2 separate regions of the Homo sapiens genome follow, and region 2 is linked to region 1. A link means that fine-mapping ties the variant in region 1 to the plasma level of a protein whose gene starts in the linked region. Region 1 holds a variant in brackets. A gene starts in the other region. All regions are shown on their forward strands.

The links. PIP is the posterior inclusion probability: the model's chance that the variant is causal. The UK Biobank Pharma Proteomics Project read protein levels with antibody pairs (Olink). The fine-mapping took linkage between variants from a reference panel, not from the people measured, so its PIPs are less certain.
Region 2: C6orf58 starts here. The variant in region 1 is fine-mapped to the plasma level of the C6orf58 protein (UK Biobank, PIP above 0.99).

What each region holds. Positions count from the first base shown.
Region 1 is chr12:11,212,762-11,218,157 of GRCh38, forward strand. All of the region lies in intron 1 of LOC107987435 (a long non-coding RNA gene), which reads left to right. Among named protein-coding and RNA genes, the nearest start is that of TAS2R42, 29 kb to the left of the region's middle. The variant G/A (reference allele first, on the strand shown) is at 2,715.
Region 2 is chr6:127,574,107-127,579,502 of GRCh38, forward strand. It overlaps C6orf58 (chromosome 6 open reading frame 58), which reads left to right and starts at 3,068. Exons shown (of 6, transcript NM_001010905.3): 1 at 3,068-3,380; 2 at 4,580-4,666. The coding sequence starts at 3,080.

The DNA of each region.
Region 1 (5,396 bases):
CCACCCCACAACAGTCCCCAGAGTGTGATGTTCCCCTTCCTGTGTCCATGTGTTCTCATTGTTCAGTTCCCACCTATGAGTGAGAATATGCGGTGTTTGGTTTTTTGTTCTTGCAATAGTTTACTGAGAATGATGATTTCCAATTTCATCCATGTCCCAACAAAGGACATGAACTCATCATTTTTTATGGCCACATAGTATTCCATCGTGTATATGTGCCACATTTTCTTAATCTAGTCTATCATTGTTGGACATTTGGATTGGTTCCAAGTCTTCGCTATTGTGAATAGTGCCACAGTAAACATACGTGTGCATGTGTCTTTATAGCAGCATGATTTATATTCCTTTGGGTATATACCCAGTAATGGGATGGCTGGGTCAAATGGTATTTCTAGTTCTAGATCCCTGAGGAATCGCCACACTGACTTCCACAATGGTTGAACTAGTTTACAGTCCCACCAACAGTGTAAAAGTGTTCCTATTTCTCCACATCCTCTCCAGCACCTGTTGTTTCCTGACTTTTTAATGATTGCCATTCTAACTGGTGTGAGATGATATCTCACTGTGGTTTTGATTTGCATTTCTCTGATGGCCAGTGATGGTGAGCATTTTTTCATGTGTTTTTGGCTGCATAAATGTCTTCTTTTGAGAAGTGTCTGTTCATGTCCTTCGCCCACTTTTTGATGGGGTTGTTTGTTTTTTTCTTGTAAATTTGTTTGAGTTCATTGTAGATTCTTGATATTAGCCCTTTGTCAGATGAGTAGGTTGCGAAAATTTTCTCCCATTTTGTGGGTTGCCTGTTCATGCTGATGGTAGTTTCTTTTGCTGTGCAGAAGCTCTTGAGTTTAATGAGATCCCATTTGTCAATTTTGTCTTTTGTTGCCATTGCTTTTGGTGTTTTAGACATGAAGTCCTTGCCCATGCCTATGTCCTGAATGGTAATGCCTAGGTTTTCTTCTAGGGTTTTTATGGTTTTAGGTCTAACGTTTAAGTCTTTAATCCATCTTGAATTGATTTTTGTATAAGGTGTAAGGAAGGGATCCAGTTTCAGCTTTCTACATATGACTAGCCAGTTTTCCCAGCACCATTTATTAAATAGGGAATCCTTTCCCATTGCTTGTTTTTCTCAGGTTTGTCAAAGATCAGATAGTTGTAGATATGTGGCATTATTTTTGAGGGCTCTGTTCTGTACCATTGATCTATAGCTCTGTTTTGGTACCAGTACCATGCTGTTTTGGTTACTGTAGCCTTGTAGTATAGTTTGAAGTCAGGTAGTGTGATGCCTCCAACTTTGTTCTTTTGGCTTAGGATTGACTTGGTGATGTGGGCTCTTTTTTGGTTCCATATGAACTTTAAAGTAGTTTGTTCCATGTACAAAAATCACAAGCATTCTTATACACCAATAACAGACAAACAGAGAGCCAAATCATGAGTGAACTCCCATTCACAATTGCTTCAAAGAGAATAAAATACCTTGGAATCCACCTTACAAGGGACGTGAAGGACCTCTTCAAAGAGAACTACAAACCACTGCTCAATGAAATAAAAGAAGATAGAAACAAATGGAAGAACATTCCATGCTCATGGGTAGGAAGAATCAATATCGTGAAAATGGCCATATAACTTAATTGTATCACAGTTAGTATAAAAAACTCTCACTGAAGACGGTAGGGACAAAAGTGCTGGCCTACATAACTTTGAAAATAAGTGGAGTCTGTAAAACTAAAGGTCAAAGAAACTACACATAAGTACTGCAGTATAGTTAATAAAGTTGTTTCTCATAAAGTTATTGGTTAACGATTCTGATGTTTTTACACATGTATACCAAAATTAAACAATTAATAAATGGATGGCAGATCATGGCAGGCAGTTTCTCACTGTTGGAGCAGGAGTTTGCAGATAAGCAAGGGGGAGATGGAATGATCCATGTACTAATGGATCAGAGTCGGAGATGTCAGTATGAACTTAAGTTTAGCTTAATATGGATATATATAAACACCAATTATTTCTACATAAAGAAATATTTCTGTATAAGTACATAAACACAGGTTACTAAGGGACTAGAAGCAAAGACACACAAGAGCAATGAGCATACCCAGATCTTGGTTTCTGATGCCACTATCTGAAAAAAGAAACTAGGACTCCTTAGAGAAATGGCTGATTCTACGACTGGGGCAGGAAATATACAAGATGAACCTGAAATCCCTTGTAGAACCAGAAAGTGAGGAAGGGCTCATTAAAAAGTGGGGGGAGTGGGGAGAGACAAGAGATGAACCTCTCATGCAGAATAGTTCTAAAGAATTTGTATGAATACTCAAGGAAGTGGAACATAACTCTCCACTCCTTACACTTGGAAAGAGGGAGGGAAAGAATAACTTTACAATGAAAAAGACTTTCAAACACTGTCTCCTCTGGGTGACGAAGGACAACATAGAAAGGGACAAGTTATGTTGATAGTATATACTCCTGATGTGACATGATGAAAATGGCACATTAACTTTGCCTCTGAGGTCTTTCTAATCAAAAATCCCATAACTCCAGTCTAATCAAGAGAAAATTATCAGACACATCTTCACAAAGAGACATGCTGCAAAATACCTGACCAGTATTCTTTAAATCATCAAGGTCATCAAAAGCAAGGAAAGTCTGAGAAACTGTCACAGCCAAGAGGAACCTAAGGAGACCCAACATCTAAATAAAATAAATAAATCCCC[G/A]TCCAGGATGGGGTCCTGGGACAGAAAAATACATGAGGCACGACTAAAGGAACCTGAATAAGATATGAACTTTAATTAATAATAATGTGACAATTGGTTCATTAATTGTAACAAATATACCATGGTATTGTAGGATAGGAGAAACTGAGTGCAAGACACATGGGAACTCCATGTGCTAGCTCCACAATTTTTCTATAAATTTAAAATTGTTCTAAAAATAAAGCTTGTTTAAGAAAATAAAAACAGGGGGATGGCAGCTAGATGCTAGGCTACAGACTATCAATGCATAAGATTTTAATCCCTAAATCATTAGTCCCTGCATCGTTAGGACTTAACCTGCATCAGTTTCCAGGGCGAAGGAAACTCGATGAAAGGAAACTTCTTACATTCATATGCCTTGTCACACTGTGAGTCACACTCACCAAATGGTCTCTCCAATTTACTGATTATATTAATACTCCTAAATTACTCATCTATACCTTCACCCACTTAAAATAATTGGGTTTTTTATTAAATACAGTATGTATGTTATTTTCTTGGGCTGAAACAACTCAATTAAATTACCACTAACTCAAAAGGAAATCAGAAATATAAAAAGTTTCATTCTCGGAATACTGTCTCTGGGAGAAAAAGGCGGGTTTTCGGTTTTTGCTTTATTTTAGTTTGTTTTTTGGTACTCTTCAATGTAACTATAAGAATGGAAGTCATGGGAGAATAAAGGGAAAACAAGAAGGCCTGGTTACTGTTGTGGAAGAAAGACTTTCTTAGGAGAAAGGTTGAGGAATTTACTAGAGAGCAATGTCAGGAAAAATGAGAATCTGGAGGCCGGGCTAGGCACACATCAAAGGAATCTGCATCTAATTACTCAGAAAGAAGAAACTGAAAAAGAGAGGTTTTTGTTTCTAGATTGGAAAGGGTGACTACTAACATCCAAAAAAGTAAACAAATAACAGAAAACTAACAGAAGAGACCCCTCCCCAGGAACTAGTTATATAAAGTGGGCACATATTTGAGAAGAGAAAACCAGGAAAATTAGCCGAAATAGTATTACGTGATTTTCAGATTCACATATATGTTGTAGGTAAAGATGCAGGTATTTCCAGTGTGAGAGAGAAACATAATCAAGATATTTGAAGAGTCAGCTCTCATAGAAAAGAAACAATGAAAATGAGATCTACTAAGGCTAGCAAGGGGCAGGAGTAATATATGAGGTCAAGGTTTAGGTCAGATGCTGTTCTGATAGAATAATTCCTAAGTGGCATTACCCACAGTGGGGAAAAGTTGGACAAAATATGTTTGAATAAAGCCTCTTTTATTAGAACTAGAATTTATCAACTTCCTATCTCTCACTGTGGAGAACTCCATAAACATATTTAAAGAAAGTATTTAAAAAAAACCACCTGAGAACGTGAAAGCAAATGGAATATTAAAGGAATTTGAAGGCATTATATTCCAACAAATAGTTACCCATAAGATGGTAGAAAAGGAAATAGATCACATTTAGAAATAGTTTGAGTTTATATATCACCTGACCATGCCTAAAATGAGTAGGCGAGTACAGCATGGAGACCATAATTTAAAATATTGTATTGAATACTTGAAATTGCCAAAAGGACAGATCTTGAGTGTTCTCACCACACATATACAAAAAAAAGGTCACTATGTGAAGCGATGGCTATGTTAACTAGCTAGATTATGGTGAGCATTTCACAATGTATACATAAATCAAAATAGGAAGTTGCACACCCTAAATATATACAATTTCTATTTATCACTTATACCCTAATAAAGCTGAAAATATTAAAATATTTTAAAAAATACATATAAAGTTGATTTTATTTAAGTACAAAAATAAAATGAAATGAGTGGGCATTCGTGAGGGGGCTTTAAACTGTAGAGGAATATCTCACCAGCAGGAGACAGGTTGGGGAGATGTCTTCAACCTAAATTTTACTCTCAAACTGGAACATTCAAAAGCAGAGGAAGACAGAGTTTTGAGGAGCCAATGGCAGAGATGTTGGCCTTGCTAGGCCCTTTGGGGTTATAGGATTCAGAAGCAGCAACAGAGTATACATTGGTTTTAGAGTGAGGGGGTTTATCACAAGCTTGAAATGTTTCTGTGTGGGGGAGAAGTTTATGTTGGGGTCAGACTGTCTCTGGGTGGAGGGGAGATTATCTCGGGTCTGGCATGCCTCTGGTAGGGGAGAGGTTTGGAATTTTTTTGGTCAGAGATATTATTTGTGGTTTATGGTCATGCTGACCTTAGCCAGAAGGCTGATGACCTTTGGATTTAGGCAGTTTTTGATCAAGGTGAACTTAAAATGACAGTGCTTGTCCAAGATGGCAATACTCCTGCTCTGTCACCAGCGATAACAGGTTTTTTAAAAATATTGCATTACAAACACATTTAAAGGAAATTTTACTATTAGGAAATATATTCACTTACAGGCAAACAGGATTTCTCTTCTTGCCTGAGAATACATGCTCCAGCTATCAATACCATTTAGTGTGGACACCCCTCATCAACACTAAGTTTTACCAAGCACATGAGGAAACATGCATCACTTACAGGACTTACTCAAAAACAAATCCACCTCCAGCCCCAGAAAGCAGACATAAAAAGAGACACAATTTTTTTCTTATTAAAATTATATTCTCAGGGATACTAAATTTAGAAAAACA
Region 2 (5,396 bases), not on the chromosome of region 1:
TTTATTTCACATTGATCTTTTCAAGTTTGAGTAATTGTATGTGTGTGACTCAAACATATAATTGTCTATCCAGTATCTAATACTAATTATCTTTTCAAATATCACAAACTTACCTTGAAAAGAAGTTATAATTAGTGGATTTAGGAGCAGTAAAACTATTTCTACTTTATAGTTAAGAAAAAATGGGCACAGAAATGTTGAAAGACAAAATTAGAATGTCTGTTCAGATTAGGTTCTCCAAGCAGTACAAATCCATAAAAAAAAATTGCCTTAAGTTAAAATTTTATTTCTTTCATAGAGACAGCAATCAGAAGTAGACAATCTAGAGCTGTAGAGACTAGAAACCAAAAGTCTTCTATTTTATTGTTCTCCTACCTTTTCTTGCTCCTTCATAATCTAAGACAGCATCAGTCTCTAGTTACATTTACATTCCAGCCAGCAGAGGAAGAAATAACAAAGAATAAAGGACAAGGTATAAAGGAGATTCCTTGAAAGCTGCAACTTAACAATTTGGCCACAGCTTTATCAAGTAGCTACATCTAGCAGTGAGACTAAATAATATAATCTCTATTCCAGGAAGACTCTGTTGTGCTAAGGATTAAGGGTGTTCTTACAAAGAAATAAGAGAAGAGTGAATATCACGTTATGTAACTATCAGTGCATGCCGTGATATGTTTGATGTTCATTTGAGGTTTATTTGTAAGCGTCTAACTTATTTCCTCTTCTATTAATAATTTTTGCATGAGAAGATCCAGATTCTACTATTGACATTATTTCTTTTATATCCTTAACAAATATCTTTCCATCAAGATGTGCTCTTACTTTTTTCCCACTGTATATGGGATTCCAATAACTACTCCACTAGTGGACATAGAAGCAATGTCTAGATCTAGTTCCAGTATAGCTCCTCTTTAAATTCTCATTTGTATTTTGGTCTTCATTTAAAATCTTTCTCTAATATAGTTCAATATTTCTGTTTTATTTAACCTGTAACTGGTCACACTATTACATCAATGACTGTGGTGTGTTACTTTAATTTTTGAGGGCTTATAATAATCTTCTAATATCTGTTATGGAAAGTTTCCTTTCACTATTATTATCCATTATTATTAGAGTTTTTGTATTTTCTTCATAATTTATTTTTTAGGCAAATTTTAGCCTCAGTCCTAAAAATCTTTCCAGAAAGCACATCTAAAAATCCTGTTAATATTTCTCATTTATTGTACAAATTTATAAATTAACATGTTGATAATGTTGAGTCTATTGAGAAACATTGTATGACTTTAAAACTGTTCAATTTTTTTGTAGTCTTAGAGATTTTTCCAAACAGATCTACCATAATTATACATTTATATGTTGGCCCTTTTGTTGACAATAAAATGAGGACTTTTCTTCCATTTTCACCTATTATATTTCCCAATTGCTTTTATATATAAAAGCTATTGATTTATATATAGTAATTTAGTTCTTAACCACTTTAGTAAATTTTTTCTTTGTAGTTACCCTTCTAGTTTATTCTCTTATGTTTTCTGAACACTGTCATATCATCTATAAGGGAAAGTACTAGCACATCTTCATTCTCAATTTTATACCTCTAATTTATTTATCTTTACTAACTTTATTGTTTGGTATCCTCAAAGAAAAGTTAAATGATTATAATGCTGGTGGTCATTTTTATTTTATTTCTGACCTTAAAGGAGTGCTCTTAAGATTTCTCCATTGAGAACAATCTGGCATTTGGTTTTAGAGTAACACATCTTACAGTACATATTCACGTATATATTCTTATAAACATTTAATATACTTTTAAAATTTCCAGAATGATTGCATTCTTGATCTATAGTAGCAATTCCTACCATTCCCTTTTATATTAATATATCTGGAAAATTTATTAATTATCAAATGGCTATTGGGTAAATAATATGACAGGAAAAAAGAGTGGAATCATGCTGTAGGATGTTTAATGTGGACCATGCCAGGAACAAGCAGTACCAGTGACCTACTATGAAGCATATGCATCTAATTGTGTAAATAATTGAGATTTTCAGATGCATTACCTATTAATAAGGCAAGAATTTTTACTATGTGTGAATAAAACTTCAATAACAGTGGTTGAAACAAGAGAGTGGGGTGTTTCTTGCTCAGGTAAAACTCAGATATAGGAATTCAAGGACATCTCATGGCTCCACAGCCCTCTGGGACTCAAGCCACCTCCAGCTTTGCATTCTGTCATCCCTAAGATAGTGCCTTGCGTTTAGGGGTCAGAATTGAATTTCAATCATCACATCAATAATCCAAGCCACAACATGGAGGAAGGGAAGAGGAATTGACATGTGCCCTTCATTTTAGGACATGTTCCAGAAATTGTGGATACTATTTCTATTTATGTCTCTGTGGTCCACACTTAGTCACATGGTTGCTTGTGTAAAGCAAATTGGAAATTTAGCCTTAATTCTGGGAGACCATATTCCCAGCTAAAATTCTACGATTCTTTTACTAATAAAGAATGAAAAATAGATATTAAGAATTAACTAGCAGGTTTTGTTCCAGCAGGCTGACTTTCATTATTGAATTGAGCTAATTAGATATTCTTTAAGCTTCTTTCTTGAAGCAGAACATTGTATTACAACTGGATCACACATATTTTTAGTACACATTTGAAGATTATTATAAATCCTAGTATTTCCATCTCCAGCTATTTAATATTTTCCATGAAATATGTTAAAGTATTTTTATTAGAGGGAAGCATTCTAAAGCCATTTGTGATGTATTTTGTAATCACAATGCAGCCTGGGAAACTTCTGGAAGGTTTTTGTTGATAAATAGTTTTATCTAATACATTATAAACAAGCCTAACCTTGTATTTAGGTTCTGACACAGTATTCTGACGCTGAAGAGTCTGGGAAATTTAATTGTCCTAAATGTTAGCTAATACATCAATTTCTTCTACATTTTCACCCTATCCAGGAAAACAAAAAAGCAAAGTGTTGATATGCTGTGAGGTTAGCAAATATCATGACTTCCTCTTCCATTCTCCAATAAAAGCCCTGCTACGATCGCAATCCCCAGCTCTGGCACAATGGCTTTTCTTCCTTCCTGGGTTTGTGTACTAGTTGGTTCCTTTTCTGCTTCCTTAGCAGGGACTTCCAATCTCTCAGAGACAGAGCCCCCTCTGTGGAAGGAGAGTCCTGGTCAGCTCAGTGACTACAGGGTGGAGAACAGCATGTACATTATTAATCCCTGGGTATACCTTGAGAGAATGGGGATGTATAAAATCATATTGAATCAGACAGCCAGGTATTTTGCAAAATTTGCACCAGATAATGAACAGAATATTTTATGGGGGTTGCCTCTGCAGTATGGCTGGCAATATAGGACAGGTAAGAATGACTCTTGTTTTCATTGTAATGATCTACCGATAGACCTATGAAGTATTTGGGAAATTGGACTCTGTATATACCCTACTATGTTTTTAAAAATTGATTCTTTATCTTGTTCTCTTTTCCCTTATAATCATTGTTTTTCTACCTATCCTTCTCCTTATCCACAAATCCTTCTTTTGTGGGTTGTGTGTTATTATTAGAAGCTTCAATGAGGCATAAGACATAGTTATCAACTGTGAAAAGACATCACATCTCATCTATTGAGCATTTCACAAATATTTGTTGAAGTTCTACTAAGTGCCACACTCCTTTCTAAGCAATGAGATGAACAAAACAGTCAAGGGGATATACAAAGTGATGTCCAATTAGTTTGAATTTCTTGAAGTTCTAATTATGATATGAGGTTATAAAGAAGCATCACATTGTTCATGAAGATCTTTCTCTGTAAAATGTTTGCTTCCTCTTGGAAATAAGGTACCTTACAGTGTATAGACAGAAGTTACATTTTGGGATAAAATATACATGAATTGAAAGATACTTTTGTTCTGGTTGATAGAAGCTCATGAGAAAGAGTGGTGCCTGTTGCCCACTCCCTGCTGATGACACAGCCAATAAAGAAATTATTGTGTGTGAGAGAGAGGTTAAGAAAAGAGCAATTTCATTTGGAAGAAAAACAATGATTATTTTCTAATATTTACATAATGCATATTACAGGTGAAACACCTTTGGTGCTTTTTCTCACCTCACATCACAACCTTATAATGTAGTTAATATTATTATCCCCATGTCATAGATGAGAAAACTAAGGCATTAGAGGTTATTTAGATAAAGTCAAGCTAGTAAGTGGTAGAGCAGGGGTTTGTTTTGACTCTCGACCATCTCTTTTCATCTGTATGCATATTGCTTCATAGTTTCGATTAGAAGGTAGAGGAGGAAATAGAAGAGAGTATCCTTACAAAAGTAAATAATATTTAGGACCTATAACTCAAAAGTAGAAAACTGTGTTGTTAAGGAAAAGGAAAGAAATTAGAAACTAAAAAATAAAAGATAAAAAAAGAATGATGGGAATACAAACACATATCATTCAGAAATAAATGCTTTTGTATCTACAAACAAAATCTATGTGGTTAAGCAATAGTTACAGCCAGTTTCAAAATGCGTATAATAAATACGACTGTGCATCCTCTCTCCTCCAGGCAGATTAGCTGATCCAACCCGAAGGACAAACTGTGGCTATGAATCTGGAGATCATATGTGCATCTCTGTGGACAGTTGGTGGGCTGGTATGTTCGTTTAAGTGGCAAAATAGATATTAACCTTTCCTGAAAGAAAGCATTCAAACCTAAAATCTTAGGGACAGAGACAGAACTAAAATAATCCTGTTCCTATTTTAAAAAGGAATCTATTTCACCGTGTACCTTATGGCCTTTAGGTCACTTTAAGGGATTTAAGAGCCACAATGTCAATAATGATTCCTTAGGACATATCCAGCTTTTCACAGAAGGACGAAAACAAGGTTCTGCAAAAGCAGTGGCCTCTGAGGGGCCAGCTCTGGTAGTTAGGTGGGAGGTCCAACTGATGACAAAGAATCTCCAGAATAAGGAACGATGAGAAGTGAGACATCAAGACAAATGATGCTTTTTCATTTTGCTCAGACCAGATGTGGTTAATATTGAAACCCATAAACATGCCAGAGATTAATACCTACTGCAATTCATTATACCAATCAGTAATCTCAGGCTTTAATCATATACTTAATGCTAAAATAACCAGAAGGTATTTTCTAATTCTTTCATTTAATTTTATGCTTTAGTAATGAAAACAATTTATACCACAAATCCTTAGAGGTATTTCTCAATAGTTAGAAACACGACCACATTAAATTTCACTTTTTCAGGGCAACACACATCATATGTATCCTTAAGCATTTTCCACTTACTACCCCTAGTTCTTTTAAAAGACTCGCGAATAGTAGTGGCCACAGATCTAGAATTCAGAGTTTGTTATTCTTAG